Regions from separate parts of the Homo sapiens genome. Here regions 1, 3 and 4 are each reported to be linked to region 2. Evidence: microRNA targets listed by miRTarBase, many of them from high-throughput screens and not tested one by one. Region 2 holds a microRNA gene; each other region holds the end of a gene's coding sequence.

What was found. The annotated mature microRNA hsa-let-7c-5p reads UGAGGUAGUAGGUUGUAUGGUU and lies in region 2 at 2,802-2,823, shown strand. An mRNA with a match to its seed (bases 2 to 7 or 8) in the 3' UTR can be bound and repressed. Matches are read on the target gene's strand: a 7mer-m8 pairs with bases 2 to 8, a 7mer-A1 pairs with bases 2 to 7 and ends in A, and an 8mer does both.
Region 1: miRTarBase lists NR6A1 as a target of hsa-let-7c-5p. Seed matches in the 3' UTR shown: 8mer at 1,286-1,293, 8mer at 2,257-2,264 and 7mer-m8 at 2,285-2,291.
Region 3: miRTarBase lists USF2 as a target of hsa-let-7c-5p. The part of its 3' UTR that is shown has no 7-base or 8-base seed match.
Region 4: the mRNA of CHTOP is a reported target of hsa-let-7c-5p. Seed matches in the 3' UTR shown: 7mer-m8 at 1,211-1,217.

What each region holds. Positions count from the first base shown.
Region 1 is chr9:124,519,351-124,523,602 of GRCh38, reverse strand. It overlaps NR6A1 (nuclear receptor subfamily 6 group A member 1), which reads left to right. Exons shown (of 10, transcript NM_033334.4): 10 at 810-4,252. The coding sequence ends at 898. Among named protein-coding and RNA genes, the nearest start is that of NR5A1, 14 kb to the right of the region's middle.
Region 2 is chr21:16,537,037-16,541,636 of GRCh38, forward strand. MIRLET7C (microRNA let-7c) reads left to right here and starts at 2,792; the gene lies at 2,792-2,875. All of the region lies in intron 6 of MIR99AHG (mir-99a-let-7c cluster host gene), which reads left to right. It overlaps MIR99A (microRNA 99a), which reads left to right and starts at 2,053; the gene lies at 2,053-2,133.
Region 3 is chr19:35,278,238-35,282,489 of GRCh38, forward strand. USF2 (upstream transcription factor 2, c-fos interacting) reads left to right here. Exons shown (of 10, transcript NM_003367.4): 8 at 461-555; 9 at 709-837; 10 at 930-1,584. The coding sequence ends at 1,019. Among named protein-coding and RNA genes, the nearest start is that of HAMP, 2.2 kb to the right of the region's middle. RefSeq lists enhancers at 1,785-2,284, 1,957-2,456, 1,963-2,107, 2,547-2,626, 2,717-2,766 and 1 more and a cis regulatory region at 2,028-2,041.
Region 4 is chr1:153,644,372-153,648,623 of GRCh38, forward strand. CHTOP (chromatin target of PRMT1) reads left to right here. Exons shown (of 6, transcript NM_015607.4): 6 at 693-1,935. The coding sequence ends at 898. Among named protein-coding and RNA genes, the nearest start is that of SNAPIN, 12 kb to the right of the region's middle.

The DNA of each region.
Region 1 (4,252 bases), not on the chromosome of region 2:
ACATGCCACTCTCCTCCATAGAACTGGGTCCTCAGCCTTGGCGGCACTTCCAATCACCTGGAAAACTTAAAAAAAAAAAAAAAATCAATGTTTGAGTTGCACCTGGAGAATTCTGGTTTAATTGGAATGGGGTAGAGCCTGGAGATAATCAGTGTTTTCGAACGGCTCCCCAGGTCACTCAGAGGTACTGTTTGCCAGAAGAAACACAGCCTTAGGTATTTATAAATTATATTAGCACACTGAATGCTCTGAGAAGTCCTTCAATCAAGAAATCTGTAAAGCTCTTTTAACCCTGAGTTTCTCAAATGTATTTGCCTCTTTACCCCTGCTTCTTTTTCCCCTAGTACTTTTATTAACCTATTAAACCATTCTGAAGTGCAATATTTTATAGAATATTACTTAGAAAATCTACCGGGGGTTGAGGGGGTGAAGAAAACAGGACAGAAGTTTTTTGGACTACCTGTCAGTTTCAGCTTCCTTATCTATAAAATGAGGGTAAAAAGTAGTACACAGAAATAGTGTGAGAATTCAACGAGGTAATGCATTTAACCACCTAGAACAGAGTTAAGTATTCCCTGAGTAGTAGAATGATGATGAGTTGGCACCATTACTAGGCTCCCTGGGCACCCAAAGGGGTCTGGATGTTAGGATGTTAGCCCAGTGTGTCCAACCTTTGTGATACTCCTGGCACTTCTCTTGCCCCAGTCACTCAGCAAGGTGATACTCTGCCTCCACCAGCCCAAGGAGGCTGACTTGCCTGTCCACTAGAGTGACCACTGCTAACTCTTCTTCTCCCCCCTTGTTCCCAGGAAAGATGGTGAATGTGCCCCTGGAGCAGCTGCCCCTCCTCTTTAAGGTGGTGCTGCATTCCTGCAAGACCAGTGTGGGCAAGGAATGACCTGTTCCAGGCGCCCTCCTCAGGCCAACCACAGCGTCTTGGGTGGGCAGGACAGGCTCTGGAGGGAAAAGCCAGAGAGACCAAGATGGAGGCTGTGGAGCAGCATTTCCCGTTGCCTCCATAGCAAGAAGAGTTTTTGTTTGTTTGTCTGTTTTTTTAACCTCATTTTTCTATATATTTATTTCACGACAGAGTTGAATGTATGGCCTTCAACATGATGCACATGCTTTTGTGTGAATGCAGCCAATGCATTTTCTTACAGTTTACAGAATGTGAAGATGTTTAATGTTACAGTGTTGTCATTGTTTAGAAATAGTTCTTTTGTATTTTGAGGGAGAGGGTGGGATGGGGCTAAGATGACTATTTCCATAATGTTGACAAAGATGACTACCTCAATGGAAATGGGGGGTGTGGCCATCCCTACTTTTTCCACATTTTCTCAGCAGACTCATACATTTGTCTGTCAGAGAGCAAATTGCCTTTTTTAGCCACAGAATTGCCAGATAAAACGGCACACTGTAAGGGGGCAAAGTGTTGTTAGGAGATTCACTAAGCAAGGTTGGTGAGACGGCAACAGGGTAGGAGGTGAGGATTGAGCCACGTCCTTTCCTTGGAAAGCGTGAAAATTAAGAGAGTAGGGCACAGTGACCATATTTAAGGCAGGTGTCCTTCCACCCAACAAGTCCTAAGGGCAGAAGAATTTCTGTTCTCACACCTTGCTGCCCCCCTTACCCCTGCACCACCATCATTGTCTACCACTGCGAACTTTCCATCTAGGCAAAGTCCTGGCAATCACTTGATCCACAGGACTCGCCTCCCAGCTCCCTCGGGGCCCCCAGCTACCTAGTTTCCTTACCTGGATCTCCTGAGGCCCACCTTCCTCCTTCCCACTCCCTTACACATTTGACTTCCTATTGGCCCTTTGAAAAACCAGCTGAGCAGAATGCCATGTTCTGAAGCCTGGTGCCCACTACTGATTTATTCTCCTTTCACCTTGTTTTCTTCAAAGGGTAGTAGGGCAAGGCCAGACTGCAAAAAGAATAGACACTCCCCTTTTGAAATCTGTTCCTCTCCCCTCCCCTTCCTACCGCACCCTCAGGTCTAAATCCGAAAACTTCAGGCTTTTTTAAACAATGAGAAGGACCATTCACCTGTCTGCTGACCAGAAATGTTGCCCCTAAGTTCTTCTCCAAGTTCTCCTTTTCTCTCCAGAGTGAGACCAGTTTTCCTCAGGGACCCAGGACACAAAGCCCAAGGCCCAGAGTGGCTCAGCTGCCCCTTACTTCAGCAGTGGACTGGCCAGCCAAGGCCTGGAGGGCTGGAGCCAGAAGCACCTGGAAGGGAAGGGGGGCTTTAAACTACCTCAGGTTCCTAATGGCCCGGCTGCTACCTCTGCAGACATGGCCTGGACTCCTTGACCTCTCACTACCTGCCCCACCTTATCCCAGGACGTGTTCCTTACCCTCTTGACTTTGGCCAGCGCTACACCAGGTCTGTCTTTGAACTCTTTCAGGTGCTTGTCCTGCCTACACCCAGGTATCTTTCACAGCCAGTGTGGCAAGCAGACCACTTAGTTGGCTGCATGCCTGGGTAGGTTGGAAGGGCCCACGGCACCTTCTTCTGCCTATTTAGTCAAAGGCTGTTTGCTGTCTCCTCAACTCAACCTAGTAAAGCTACCCAGGAGGGCACCACGTCGTGTGCATACTGGGTAGTCCATGTCTGATTGTAATTGTTTCTTTCTGGTGAAATGTTACGGGTACCAGCAGAGTGATGATTTTGGCCCTTGATGGATCTAAAACTCGGAACATTACTCCTCAATGCCGTTTCCCCAGTTGCTCTGAGAAGGAAGAGACATGTTCCTCAGGAAAAGCTCCAGCTAGCATGTTTTTCACGTCAGTGGGAAGATTCTTGTGTGTTCGTGTGTATCTGTTTATTTCTAAGTTCACGATACTTGTTCCCCTGAATTTTATTTAACCAACTAGATCACATTCTTTGGCCACAGGTCAGACTCTGAGCTGCTTTCCTCCAGATCGGGAAGGAGACACATATCACAGATGCCTTCTCTAAGACAGCTCCTGTGTACAGCATCGTTCTTTGCTGAGGCCTCTATCTGTCCAATTATTATTTTTGAAATTGCTTTTCAAATTAAACATTTTACCCGTTGTGTTGGGTGTCAAAAGAAATTGCTCTCTGATGAGGCAAGAACATGTCTCTCCAACAACGTAGTATTGAACAGAGCAAGTTGTTAATTTGTGGAGTAGGGGAAAGGTTCTGCAAGTTGCCATTGTACAAATCCAGTTTTACAAATGTTTGCAGCAGATTCCACAGAACAAAGAGCCCATTCATTGCCGAGAGCCCTGCAGAATCTCAGAGCAAAGTGGCTGTGTGTTCCGAGCCGGAGCCTGACCTGTGGACCGTCTTTAATGTCTTCTGCACCAGTCCTTTTATGACGTGGGCTTTTTTTAAACAGGGTAAAGTGAATGTGTTGCATTGCAAACTCAGGTATTATGAGGAGAAGGTAGGAGTGTAGCTAGCAGCGTGGAGACATTAGGTCAGCCACTAGATGTATTTGTGAATTTGGTTTGAAGGACACGGAGAAAGGTTGGAGGGGAGGTTTGGTGTGTTTGTTTTTTGCTTTCTTCCCCATAATGTTTGGTTAACAGGTAGCCTTTTTGCGAGTGGAAGGAGAGAAAAGTTGTGCATGTTTTCTCTAATTTCTCTTTCTGCCCTCTCTCTGATCCCCAACCACCAAAAGCACTCACTTTGAGTGAGGATTTTTTTTTTTTTTTTTTTTTTTTTTTTTGAGGCGGAGTCTCGCTCTGTCGCTCAGGCTGGAGTGCAGTGGTGCGATCTTGGCTCACTGCAAGCTCCGCCTCCCGGGTTCATGCCATTCTCCTGCCTCAGCCTCCTGAGTAGCTGGGACTACAGGCGCCCGCCACCACACCCGGCTAACTTTTTTTGTATTTTTAGTAGAAACATTGTTTCACCACGTTAGCCAGGATGGTCTCCATCTCCTGACCTCGTGATCCGCCTGCCTCGGCCTCCCAAAGTGCTGGGATTACAGGCGTGAGCCACTGCACCCAGCCGAGTGAGAATTTTTATGCCATAAAAATACGACTCTGAAAGCTACATGGAAAAGGAGAATCCCACCTCCTTGCACTACATTGAAACATGCAAGCCTTTCCCTCCCTCTCCTTTTTGATGTTTTCTTGTCCCAAGACAAAAGTTTGGCATCTTGGAACTTATTCATGCTCTCTGGCTGCCTTTGTAGACTTTTGGAGTCCTTTGCAAGGTTTGGTGGTCTCGTCGTTAATCTGGAGAAATTCCCCAGAATCTGTCTCAAAGCGCTCAACC
Region 2 (4,600 bases):
AAATCCAAATCTCTTTTCAGCTTTCGCTACTTCATTGTGCAAAACCTAGTCGCTTCTTTAACAGCCATCGTCCTTTCACTTTCAAAACTGTTACTGTGAAAACAACACGAACCAAAATGAACGCATAAATGCAAACTATGAAACCACTTTATATGTCATATGAGTAGCCTGGGTGGGGCCCTGTGAGTCTTCCAAGGCTTTAAAAAAAAAATACTTTAAAAGGTTTTGCCCATTTTGATATCGTGTTTTCTTCTCGATCGTCTACCCTCATTCCCACGATCCACTCAGATGCTCCTCCTAGACAGCAGTTGTCTGATATTTCTCCTTTTGTGGTTGTTTTAGGGAAAAACTTAAAATGGATATGAAAAGTGAAGAAAGTGATCATAGGAGAAAACCATTTCAGGTAAAAATAAAAAACAAAGAGCAAATAAGATTTACTGTTTTTAAAGAAAAACAACATTCTTTTGACTGTGTTTTGTTATAAGAATTAATTTCATATTCTTTATGAGTGTAACTGTTGAAATTTTATTGATGGTTTTCATTTGAAAATGTGTGCTATGACCTACCTTTGTGAAAAATTTCTTGTGGTCAATTGGGCAGTTTGTGTCCCATTGAATATATGTCTGTGTATCCATACGCTTAAGATAGGTGCAATACGGTTTACTAGAAAGCTTTATAGGAAAAGAAAAAAATTATATTTTCTTATTTGTTGTACCATATAAAAGGAAGTGAAATCAGGAGGAGGGGAATAAGGTCATGCTTTTTCATCTTTTTTACATGACCTGATAAGACAATGAAACCAAAACATGCTTTCTTATAGTTATGGTAAAACTAAACCCAATGCTGCCTCTTATTTCACATTTGCATTTATAAATATATGTTGAAATATTTTTACTACAACTGAATGTATGATTGTTGATTATTTACTATAGTTTTTAATAATTATGAGGACAATTTAAGAATAAATAATGGTTTAAAATTATGTAGAACACATGATCTATATAAAGGCTATAAAACGTATTTATTTCAAAATATGCAAAATCACTAAGCAATTAGTATGTAGTATTATTTTACACAATAAAGATATAATTAGGAAATGCTAAGTGATTATAGATGTGAAATGATTAATGATTGTACAACTTATCATTTTGTTGCAGTTGAGTTTACAATCTTAAAAAAACGTGTATGTGGCTGGCTTTATGTTTACTCGTTTGTGTGTTTGCTTGTTGTCTGGTGGTTTAAAACATTTTTTAGTAATATTTTATTTTTGCCCAACCTGTTGACCAGATGAGAGTTGTATGTAGCCATGCATTTTAAGTGTATCTTTTTTGAACAATAAGTTTAAATATATTTTATTTAGGAAAGAAGATATCCTATGTCATGTAATACATCTGGAGTATAAATGTTAGTGTGGAGTATTAGTAATCATGCCATTATCGTGCCATTTAGTTTAGTTTTATATTAACTCATCCAAATATTGTAAATTTTAGCACCATTCCGACTATAGACACAGATGTATATATTTAAGGCTGATAATAACTTCCTGTATTCTCTAGCTAGTGAACAAGATCTTACTGTTTTATGAGAAAGTTATAATGTTACCAATTCCTTGAAACCAGTAACTAAACTAGTTTTATAAAAATTAAAATAAGCACGGTCTAACTCATACACAATTAACTTAATAGTTAATTTGGTTTTAATTATAGGCTCGTAATACTACATTCATGCCTCACAATTATATAATTCATACATGCATGTATGGATTCTTTTTTCTTTTAAAACTCAATTAGAATAGTTTAATTCCAAAATATTTACTATTGAAACAAAAGCAGTTCGTGAAAAATTTTTCAATAAACTACTTTTTAAATTCTCATGCATATAAATTTGTATTTAGTTTTGAATATTTATGAAGGCCTTTAATGGAGAATATGCATCCTTAGAACTCAGCATTTAAAACATTTATACTAAAGGATCAATATTATTTTTGACTCTTAATTGCATCAGATATTTACAACAAATTCTATATTAATAGGGGGCCCATGCAAGATGTTGCCCATTGGCATAAACCCGTAGATCCGATCTTGTGGTGAAGTGGACCGCACAAGCTCGCTTCTATGGGTCTGTGTCAGTGTGGTAATCTGACAAAATGCTATACACAGTGCCGTTCAACAATAGTTCAGTAAAATCCTGTTAAACTCCAGTTGATTATATACTTTTGAAGTCATTATATTTTCCTTTGTTTTTAATGTTTATTTTAATCATTGTCTGTCTTACAAGGCAGGCTTCAATTCTCAACAACTTGGAAGCGTTTATATCACACCCATTCAAGTTCGATTCCATGTACAGTAAATTGCATAAGAAAGTTGAACCTTTATAGCAGGGTTTGGACCAGGATCTGAATAGATTCTGTTCAGAAACTTCAGTGCATACTGTAGTGCTTAGTGTACCTCTTCAACTTCAGTAAGAAAATTAAAGACTACCATTGGATTTATATGTTTTTATTGAGCCTATTTCTCCTGAAAAAATGAGGCTGAATGCAATTGACTTTTACTATTAATTGCGACTAGAACTATGGCAGGTTAGATGGTCAGAAGACATTTTACGTGACCTATGCTGGAAACCCAAGTGTTTAGGTTAGTCCTATGAGAAACAGTTAGCAGCAAAGTTTACTGGTAAAATGTTAGAATATTATATCTATATCCTTGCCAAGCCCTTAGGTGTATGGCTGCCATATTTGGAGGAGCTGACTGAAGATATGATAAGGAGTTTGAAGCAACATTGGAAGCTGTGTGCATCCGGGTTGAGGTAGTAGGTTGTATGGTTTAGAGTTACACCCTGGGAGTTAACTGTACAACCTTCTAGCTTTCCTTGGAGCACACTTGAGCCGTCGAGGAATTCTTCATCACTTTAACCTGATTGAGCCAATTTGTGTGCAAGAAGGTAATGTGTCATGAGTATCTTGGATCATTGATTTGGGCCTTTATTACATTAAAATGATCATTTCAGCCCTATTAGATTATTCCATTTGTATCTGCTTATGAACAATGTCAAAATGGTATTTCTAATGGGTTGTCACTCCATGTTCAAACATTTTAAGAAAATTGTAGGTAGTGACTTAAATTGCATTAATATTAAAGCTTTTTATCATCTATAGATTAACAAAATTCAGACCTTAATTTTCAAATGGATCATTGGTCTATTTATATTGGCTGCTTAGACACTATAATAAAAAATGTCTGCTAGAGTTAATAGCTCCCATAGCACATTATTTGCGTTTTCCTTATGACACATCACTTTCTACCTTATGTTATGGCTATTTATGTGCTTGCTGATTTTTTCCGCACTAGACTGTAAGCCCCTTGAGGGCAAAGTCCATGTTTTATTTTTCACTGTATCCCCTCCAATGCCTTACTCATAATGAGCACTAACTATTTATTGGATTAGTGAATGGAGTGTAAGACCTCACTCTGTGATGAGTTTCTATTGAATATTTGAATGAGTTATGGCAGTGGTCAAACATCTGAGTTTTATTTATTGCTCCTAAAACTGTTTAAATTTAATTCCTGGACTGCTCCGCATCAGTAATACATGTGTCGATTTTTGACTGTGTTGAATGTGTTCATTCATTCTAAACAGATAAGTTAAAATTTAGAAGTACTTTTTATCTAGAATAAAAATAATAGAGTAAATTCATTTTTACTAATTAGTTCATGACAGTTTATGATCCTACACTTAGATAATTCATATTTCTGTTGAATTTAAATACCTTTCTTTCCAGATGAATCGTTTTTCTTTTAGCATCAATTTCAACTAAATATTCTATTTTAAGTCTCATTTAACAATATGATTTTTAAAAATTAGATTTGTGTCTTTTGTGTATTTCCCTCGTCTCCTGCCCTTTATTTTTGTACAGCTATATCTGTTGAATAAACCAGAAGCAACTAAACCAGAAACATGTCAATAAATTAATAATAAATATGTATATAAAGTATAATTTGAGAATGTGAACACATTTTTGTTTAAAGGAAAGGCACTTTATAATATTCTTTGTGTTACAAAGCAAATGGGACTCTTTGGAACCTTAGTTTGCTGTCAACTTTAGCAGCTGTTAGTGGTGTAATTTGTGTAGTGAGGCTATCTTACATAGATCATCTTTCAGACACAGGATTAAGTAGTTGTTGATGTTAGAACTTTAATTTAAGACTCCAAATATGAAACATGGAATTCATTAAAGAGACGTTTAGATGCAAATATATATTAAGGACCTCAAGATACTGGCTATGTGGTGCTGACCTTTCTAGAATGCTCAGGCATCCAAAATATCTTAATACCTAGAACTTGCTAACAATGTAGTGAAGAAGGAATGGCTACCCCCAACACGTAGAACATGTGAGCCTTAGAAAGTGAATACCAGTCACTTCAAGCAAAATAATTTGATTGGTCTACAGTAGTAAAGACTCTTTCTCTCTGTGAAAGAAAAATATTTGCAAGGACTAATCAAGAAGCAATGAATAAGAGGCAGTAGACATAGACCTAAAACAAACAAACAAAAAGACATGAAGAGATGAAAAGGAAAGTGACTCATAGCAAATAGGAACAC
Region 3 (4,252 bases), not on the chromosome of region 2:
TGCAGGGGCCGCAGGAGCCAAAAAGGGGCACTGGTCCTGCGAAGAGTGGCTCTGTCCATCCCTGCCTTCCAGTATGTGCCCACTGTGACCAGAGCTCCATTTCTCAAAAGAAGCCAGTGATGCCAATTACCATGAGAAATTTCCTTATTTTTAACTGTCGATTAAAATTTGTACAAGTATGGTGGGGCAGGCCTGCAAAATGATCTCCAAGTGCCTGGCCTTTGATGCCCGTCCTAAAAGCATGTGTGGCACTGGAGGGCCCACGTTTCTTTGTTCCTCTTGAGAAGCTGGGGTGGGGGCCGGCTGGGCTCAGGGTGCGGCCCCTCACTTCCCAGGGCTGTGGTCTCGGTGGGGCCTGCACTGTTCCTGGGTGTCCTTGGGCTGAGCCTCTGCCCTGTGAGGACGGCCGCTCAGGCATGATCCGTCAGCGAAGCCGTGGCTGTGACTCTGTTTTCCGCAGTGGAGCGGAGGCGGAGGGACAAGATCAACAACTGGATCGTCCAGCTTTCGAAAATCATTCCAGACTGTAACGCAGACAACAGCAAGACGGGAGCGGTGAGCACCCCGGACCCTCAGTGTCTGCGGTGGTCCCGGCCCCCGACCCTTGCATGCAGAAAGTCCAACAGCCATGGGGCTCGGGAGTCATCCCTGGGGTGGAGGCCGGTGGGCGGTGCCTGCCCTAAGGCTCCTGGTCCCCTCGCCCCCCAGAGTAAAGGAGGGATCCTGTCCAAGGCCTGCGATTACATCCGGGAGTTGCGCCAGACCAACCAGCGCATGCAGGAGACCTTCAAAGAGGCCGAGCGGCTGCAGATGGACAACGAGCTCCTGAGGCAGCAGGTGGGTGCGGGGCCTGGAGCGGGTCAGGGCCCAGGAGCCCCAGATGCAAGGCGCTGGCCCTCAGCTCCCTTGACCTCCGTCGTGTCCGCCAGATCGAGGAGCTGAAGAATGAGAACGCCCTGCTTCGAGCCCAGCTGCAGCAGCACAACCTGGAGATGGTGGGCGAGGGCACCCGGCAGTGACGCCCGCCACCACCACGCAGCCGCCGCCGCCCACGCCGGCCTCTGCTGCCCCCTTCCCCAGCCCTTAGCACAGAGAGGGACACATGCCCCTCCCCCAGCTGCGTTTTTTTATAGTAGATTTTTAACAAAAAACGGGGAGAAATAATGCATTTCTGTGGATACAGTGCCCACCGCCCTCCTCCACTTGGAAACGGTATCCTCCCTGCCCATCCGTCTGTCTGTCGCCCTTCTCCCGGCCCTCACTAAGCCCCGGCACTTCTAGTGGTCTCACCTGGAGGCAAGAGGGAGGGGACAGAGGCCCTGCCACGTCCCGCTGCCTCCTGCTCTCTGGAGGTACTGAGACAGGGTGCTGATGGGAAGGAGGGGAGCCTTTGGGGGGCCACCCGGGGCCTGGACCTATGCAGGGAGGCCACGTCCCACCCCACCTCTTGTTTCTGGGTCCCTGCTCCCCTTTGGGGGTGTGTGTGTGTGTTTTAATTTTCTTTATGGAAAAATTGACAAAAAAAAAATAGAGAGAGAGGTATTTAACTGCAATAAACTGGCCCCATGTGGCCCCCGCCTTGTCTGCTTGTGTGTTTGTCCATCTCAGGAGTGGGGAGGGGGCCTGGGGTCTGCAGAGCTCCACGAGGCATGGTTCTGCTGTTGTGCACATGGCTGTGCATGGTCCCTGCCAGCTGCACCACCCATTACCCAGTGGTTGGTTGGATGGATGGAGGAATTAAGGAATGAATGTCCCCTTTGAGGCCCTAGACGTGCATGAGGGTGTGGGGAGCTGGGGTCAAGGACATGTCCCATGTTGGAGGAGAGGCAGGGGTCTCCGTGTCAACAGTTCCTGAAAACACAACCAGCCCCTGGCCCTGCCCTGCTGGGCCAAAGCCCTCCCCTCTGCACCAGCCAATAGTGGGGCCTGGCCTTGAGCCCCTCACCCCCAGGGAGGGCAGATGGCCAGGGCGCCAAGCTTGGCCCGTCAGCCTGTCGCCTTGCACCAAGGCTCTGGCGCCTGTGCTGTGACCCCTGCCCCTGCTGATGATGAAACCTGTCCTCAGCTGAGATGCAGCGATGCCTGGTAGGGCTGGGGGCTGCTCCTGTGTCTCCCCAGGTGAGCACACCCCTATTCACTGGGCCCTGCTTCAGCCTGCAGCACCCTTCAACTCCCAGGAGCTGGGCTTGCCACTCTGCTCACCTTGTGGAGCTCCATCTGCCTTTCCTCCCCAATTCCCCCACTCCCTGCACTCGTCTCTTCCCACAAGAGCCCTGTCTCCTTTTCCTAGCTATTCCCATCTGAGGCCATCTTTATTCATTTAGTTTTTAGAGACAGGGTTTCACTCTCACCCAGGCTGGGGTGCAGTGGCACACAATCACGGCTCACTGCAGCCTTGACCAACTACAGGTGCGTAGCACCACAGCCAAGTTTTTGTATAGATGGGGTCTCGCTTTGTTACCCAGGCTGTGACAAGAGGAGCCTCCCACGTGGTGTGGATGAGGAGGCAGATGGCAGGGCCTGTGCATTTCTGTGCTTGAGTGGGCCTTGAAAGTGGTTCAGCAACCAGGAAGAAGTGTTCATTCCTCGACAACAACATCCCCGGGCTCTGGTGACTTGGCTGACACTGGATGGCCCTGGAATGAAAAAGGCAAAGAGGCAAAATGTGCAAGGGCCCATCTGGAACCAAGGTTTGTTGATCCCCTGGGCCGTGTGCACCCTGAGCTGGGCCTGGTAGTGGAAAGGAATGAAGGCACTGCAGTCAGGCAGCCTGGGTTCATCCCCCAGCTAGTGGTGTCCTAAGGAACCGGCTCCCCAAAAACATCCCTGGCTTGTAGTGCTTGCCAATTTCTGGGTGTCAAGACTCCCACTGCTGCTGATTTCAGGATACCAGCATGATGCCACTGAATGCAGAGTTTCGAGATGTGCATGGTCTGCTATGTTGAGCCAGGTCTAGCATACCGCTGTGCCCTGCTGTGTTTTAGGGGAGATGGGGAAACCTGGTGGGTAAGAGCAAAAGCCCTGGAGTCAGGCTGTCCAGGCTAGAATCTCAGCTCTGCCTCTGGCTGAGCAAGCTTGGGCCATGCCCTGATCTCTGCCTTCAGTGCCTTTTCTGTAAAGTGAAGGAAATGAGTGTCCGACGGGGAGGAGGTTCCTAAAAGGGAGCAGGGTCTGGGGAGCCCAGGCCTCTGGGGTTGGGTGACTGAGAAGGCAGCCCCTGAATACAGAGCAGAGCTGAAGGTGGGGCAGTAAGTGCTGCTGGGAGAACAGGCAGCACAGGCTGAGTTGGTGCAGAAGTGAGTCAACATATGTGCCATCGTATAAAATGTACTCATCGGACTGTAGATGTTAGCTATTACTATTACTGCTATTTTATGTTTTATAGACAGGGTCTCACTCTGTCACCCAGGCTGGAGTGCAGTCACACAATCATAGCTCACTGCAACCTCAGCCTCCTGGGCTTAAGCGATCTGCCTCAGCCTCCCAAGTAGCTGGGACTACAGATGTGTGCCACCACGCCTGGCTAAATTTGTTTAAAATTTTTTTTGTAGAGATGGGGTCTCCCTATGTTGCCCAGGCTAGTCTTGAACTTCTGGGCTCAAGCGACCCTCCTGCCTTGGCCTCCCAAATTGCTGGGATTACAGGCATAAGCCACTGTGCTGGGCCATATTACTGCTGTCATTTATGGCCAAAAGTTTGCTCAAACATTTTCCAGTTACCAGAGCCACATCTCAAGGGTCTGACACTGGGAAAACACCACGTGCGGATCGGGCACACGCTGATGCTTGCCCTGCTCAGGGCTATCTAGTGTTCCCTGCCAGAACCTATGCACGTGTGGTGAGAGCTTAAAGCAATGGATGCTTCCCCCAACATGCCAGACACTCCTGAGGAGCCTGGCGGCTGCTGGCCATGCCCCGTGTGCATGTAGGCGATGGGGAAGTGAGTGGAGGAGAGCGGAACCTTGATTCTGCTCATCAAACTGCTTAACCGCTGAAGCAAAAGGGGGAACTTTTTTCCCGATCAGCAGAATGACATCGTGATGGGGAAAGGGCTCCCCAGATGGCTGGTGAGCAGTGTGTGTCTGTGACCCCGTCTGCCCCACCCCCTGAACACACCTCTGCCGGCTGAGGGTGACACAACCCTGTTCCCTGTCGCTCTGTTCCCGCTTATCTCTCCCGCCTTTTCGGCGCCACCACCTTCTTGGAAATGAGACAGAGCAAAGGGGAGGGGGCTCAGACCACCGCCTCCCCTG
Region 4 (4,252 bases), not on the chromosome of region 2:
TCAAAAAGCTGAGTTTGTTTTGTTAACTGAATTCACACTGCTTCTCAGATAACCACAATTGTCAGTTGTCATAAGGTAACTAGAATTAAAGGTAGAAATAGCTAGGACAACTCAAAATATTTTTTCAAATCTCCCCTACATTGTTCCTGTGTCAGAAAAACTCAGTCTCCTGACACATGAGGTCAGCTAGCTCATTAGACTTGATAAGTTTAAGGACAGGTGAGATGACTTTCCAGAAGGGTCTCCAATAAACTTAATTTGAAAACTGTCTTGTCTTCACACCCCTGATGCTCTGTGCTCTTGTTACCACCTCCCTATCTTACCAAATGGGGTTATCTGTCATGTATTTTAATTATGAACTTAGTGAATCTCAAATGTTAGGTAATTTTATCTTAGGATTGATTAAGGTTTTTTAAAATTATAGTTGCCAGTTAATTATTTTCCTTTATTGATAGAATAAAATTTGTTAAAATAGCATTTAGAGATGATCATGTGATAGAGGATTCATTATGTGTGCTTTCCATGTGTTGCTTTCTACCCATTGTGTTTCCTTTTTTTCCAGATTTCTCCTCTTTGCCCTGCCCTTCAGCTTTTCTCAGCTAGGCCCCACTGCTCTAAGGGGCATTTACTACAGCACCTATTAAACTTACTTGTAACTGTCTCTTTTTTTTTTTTTTTCCCCTTTGGGCCAGGTCGGGGTATGATAGGTCGGGGAAGAGGGGGCTTTGGAGGCCGAGGCCGAGGCCGTGGACGAGGGAGAGGTGCCCTTGCTCGCCCTGTATTGACCAAGGAGCAGCTGGACAACCAATTGGATGCATATATGTCGAAAACAAAAGGACACCTGGATGCTGAGTTGGATGCCTACATGGCGCAGACAGATCCCGAAACCAATGATTGAAGCCTGCCCATCCTCCCATGAGAGACTCTTGTTAGTCAACACATCTGTAAATAACCTTGAGATAACAGATGAGAAGAAATCTGATTGATGCTGGATGGACCTATCACAATAGGCTGTGGACTTACTTGCCACCAGCTTGTGCATTTAGTGTGTTCCTTTTACTTTTTGATACTGTGTTGTATGAAACCCTTTTGTCCTTTGATTTGGTTTTTTGTTTTTGTTTTTTTAGGGGGGAGGGGGGGTTTCCCCTCCTTTGCCCAGACTTCTCTTTGAACACAAATGCATTAGCCTTGTGGCTAGAACACCCTCTTCCTACCTCTGTCTCCCCTCACTTGTCATATGCTCTGACATGCTAACATTTCTTTTGTTCATCCCTGTTGCCCCCACAGAAACATCCCAGAAAAACCGGTCAGTGTTCCTTCCTCCCTGATCCTTAGGTTTCTGAAATAGGGTTCTGTTACATCCTCTTCGATAGCCTGTTTAAAATGTTTAGAAGGTCTGGAGCTCAAAAATGCGTTCTTCCACATTGATAATTTAGTAAACTGAGAACATTGACATCACTACAGGGCAGCATAAGAGGTTGCTTACATGTGGTAGCAGCTCTGGTTTGATTCAAGTTGCTACCATGTACATTGACAGCACATATACCATAACCAGCGTGTTGGGTTGAATTGCACTTTCTACCTTTGTATGAGATTTACAGACTTTCCTTCTGGGTTTGTATCATGACCAGAGGGGTACTATAGGGTTGGTTTATACTGCAATATAGAGGATCAGAAGCCATTTGATTTGGTAGGTGTGTCAGAAGGGAGAATGATGGCAGACGAACTGCTGGAAGAGGTCAGAAGATAGCCATGCTAAAATGCAATTATATCCTCATGTTTATCCCAAACTAATCTTGGACTTTTCCACTCATTAGCTTTGTTTTGCCCTTGTTTCCCTTGAAGGTTTAAGTTCAACCATATTCTGTCAACTGTTCAGTTTCAGTGGAATCTTGTATTTCTGGTTCATTATAACAAACTGTTCGCTTAAATCCACCCAGGACTCTCTTTATTTGAGGTGCCTCAAAATGCCATGGCTACTTTAATGATGTTTTTTTTTTTTTTTCTTGTGACCGAGTCTCGCTCCTGTCACCAGGCTGGAGTGCAGTGGCGCGATCTTGGCTCTGCAACCTCCAACTCTCTGGTTCAAGCGATTCTCCTGCCTCAGCCTCCCGGGTGGCTGTGACTACAGACATGTGCCACCACACCCAGCTAATTTTTGTATTTTTAGTAGAGATGGGGTTTCACCATGTTGGCCAGGATGGTCTTGATCTCTTGACTTGGTGATCCACCCGCTTCAGCCTCCCAAAATGCAGGGATTACAGGCGTGACCCACTTTCAGCCTCCCAAAGTGCAGGGATTACAGGCGTGACCCACTGCACCCAGCCACTTTAATGATGTCTTGATATACCCCTTGTATGGTTGAGAGTTTCTTTCTTCTTACTTGTGTTAAAATTCTGGAGAGCCTGTGGCTTTGAGCAGAAAGTGAAGAATTTGACTTCCTCTGAGCTCTGCAGAAATAACACCACGCCCACAAAAACTCAAGGAAGATTGTCTTGGGCAACATTCTGGGCCCTTGGGCCCTGGCACATATTTCCCTTTTTCCCTATGTTGAGAGCTGAAGAGAAAAGAACCTAGTAGCGCCCAGCCAAGCCAGTTGTCATTGGGCTGCCTTTCACCCTAAACTGCCAGGAGGTTGTACTTACTGGGGGCTGGGAAGGAAATTTTGGTCAGGACAACCCAAACTTGAATCCTGTGATGTGGGGTGTCTGTAGGTCCCAAGGGAGATGGGCAGTGGGGGTCTAGCAGAAGGCTACAGGTTGGACGGTGACTGCAGAACTGAATCCCCAGTTCAGCTCCTTCTGCCTTTTCCAGTGCTAAAGCATGAGGACTTCCCCTCCCAGCCAACCTCCCCAACAACCCAAACAAGTGCAAAATGCCAGGCTCCCTCCTACCCCAGAGGAGACTGATGCTTAAGAGTTCTCTATAAAGGAGGTGACTGCCGTAGCCTAGGCTTCCTTCCTTCTACCTCCATGTCCTTCCTACTTCATTGAAAGAATTTATCCCCAAATCGCTTATGTGGGGCACAGGGAACTCTCCTATCAGCCAAGGGTCCTCCAGCCCCACCTACTGCTCACTACAGTTCCCAGGGTCTCCTGAGGCCTGTGTCCCTGTCATCCTCAGTCACTGGTCGTGTGGGACAAGGTGAGTAAACCTGACCTCCTCTGGGTCAGCCTTTCATTCAGCTGCCATGTGCTGAGGGCTTGCCATACCAACACAAGGCATCCTTTGTAAGGGTAACATTAGGAGCATAGGGAAGAGGTTGATGAGCTGGATCTTTTAAGACAAGGGAAAGTAGAGAAAATACACCAAGCAGAGGGAACCAAGTGTAAAGGTACAGTGCTAAAAGAACACCTGAGGCTGGGCACAGTGGCTTACGCCTGTAATCCCAGCACTTTGGGAGGCCGAGGCGGGTAGATCACCTGAGGTCGGGAGTTTGAGACCAGCCTGACCAACATGGAGAAACCCCGTATCTACTAAAAATATGAAATAAGCTGGGCGTGGTGGCACATGCCTGTAATCCCAGCTACTCGGGAGGCTGAGACAGAAGAATCACTTGAACCCGGGAGGCGGAGGTTGCAGTGAGCCGAGATGGCGCCATTGCACTCCAGCCTGGGCAACAAGAGTGAAACTCCATCTCGAAAAAAAAAAGGTGGTCCTGCTGCTATGAATAGATAGCTCCATGGACCCAGCAGGGGTTAGGGTAGAGGCTCCCACTTATGCCTCGGTGGGCTCTCCCACCTGCGTCACACCCTGGCTAGTGACCCAGTCAGACGTGCTGGGGACCCTGGCTGACCACCTGTACCAGGGGCAAGGAAGGAAGGAGAGGGGAGCATTGTGAAGCAGGGCAGGATGACTCTTGAAGGTGGAGACAGGCCCTGGACAGCTCTGGGACCCTTAATGGTGGCAGCAGCCCCCAGTCATAGGCCTCATTGTGTGGGCAGCCTGGGACAGCTAAGATCCCCATGAGGTCTCTTTAAAGGATTCACTAAATGCTCCATTTAGTCTTGGTTTGTTTTTTTGTTTTGTTTTGTTTTTTGAGATGGAGTCTCGCTCTGTTGCCTGGCTGGAATGCAGTGGTGCAATCTTGGCTCACTGAAAACTCCAACTCCCTGGTTCAAGCAATTCTGCCTCAGCCTCCTGAGTAGCTGGGATTACAGGCATGCGCCACCACACCCAGCTAATTTTTGTATTTTTAGTAGAGACGAGGTTTCACCATGTTGGCTAGGATGGTATCGATCTCCTGACCTCG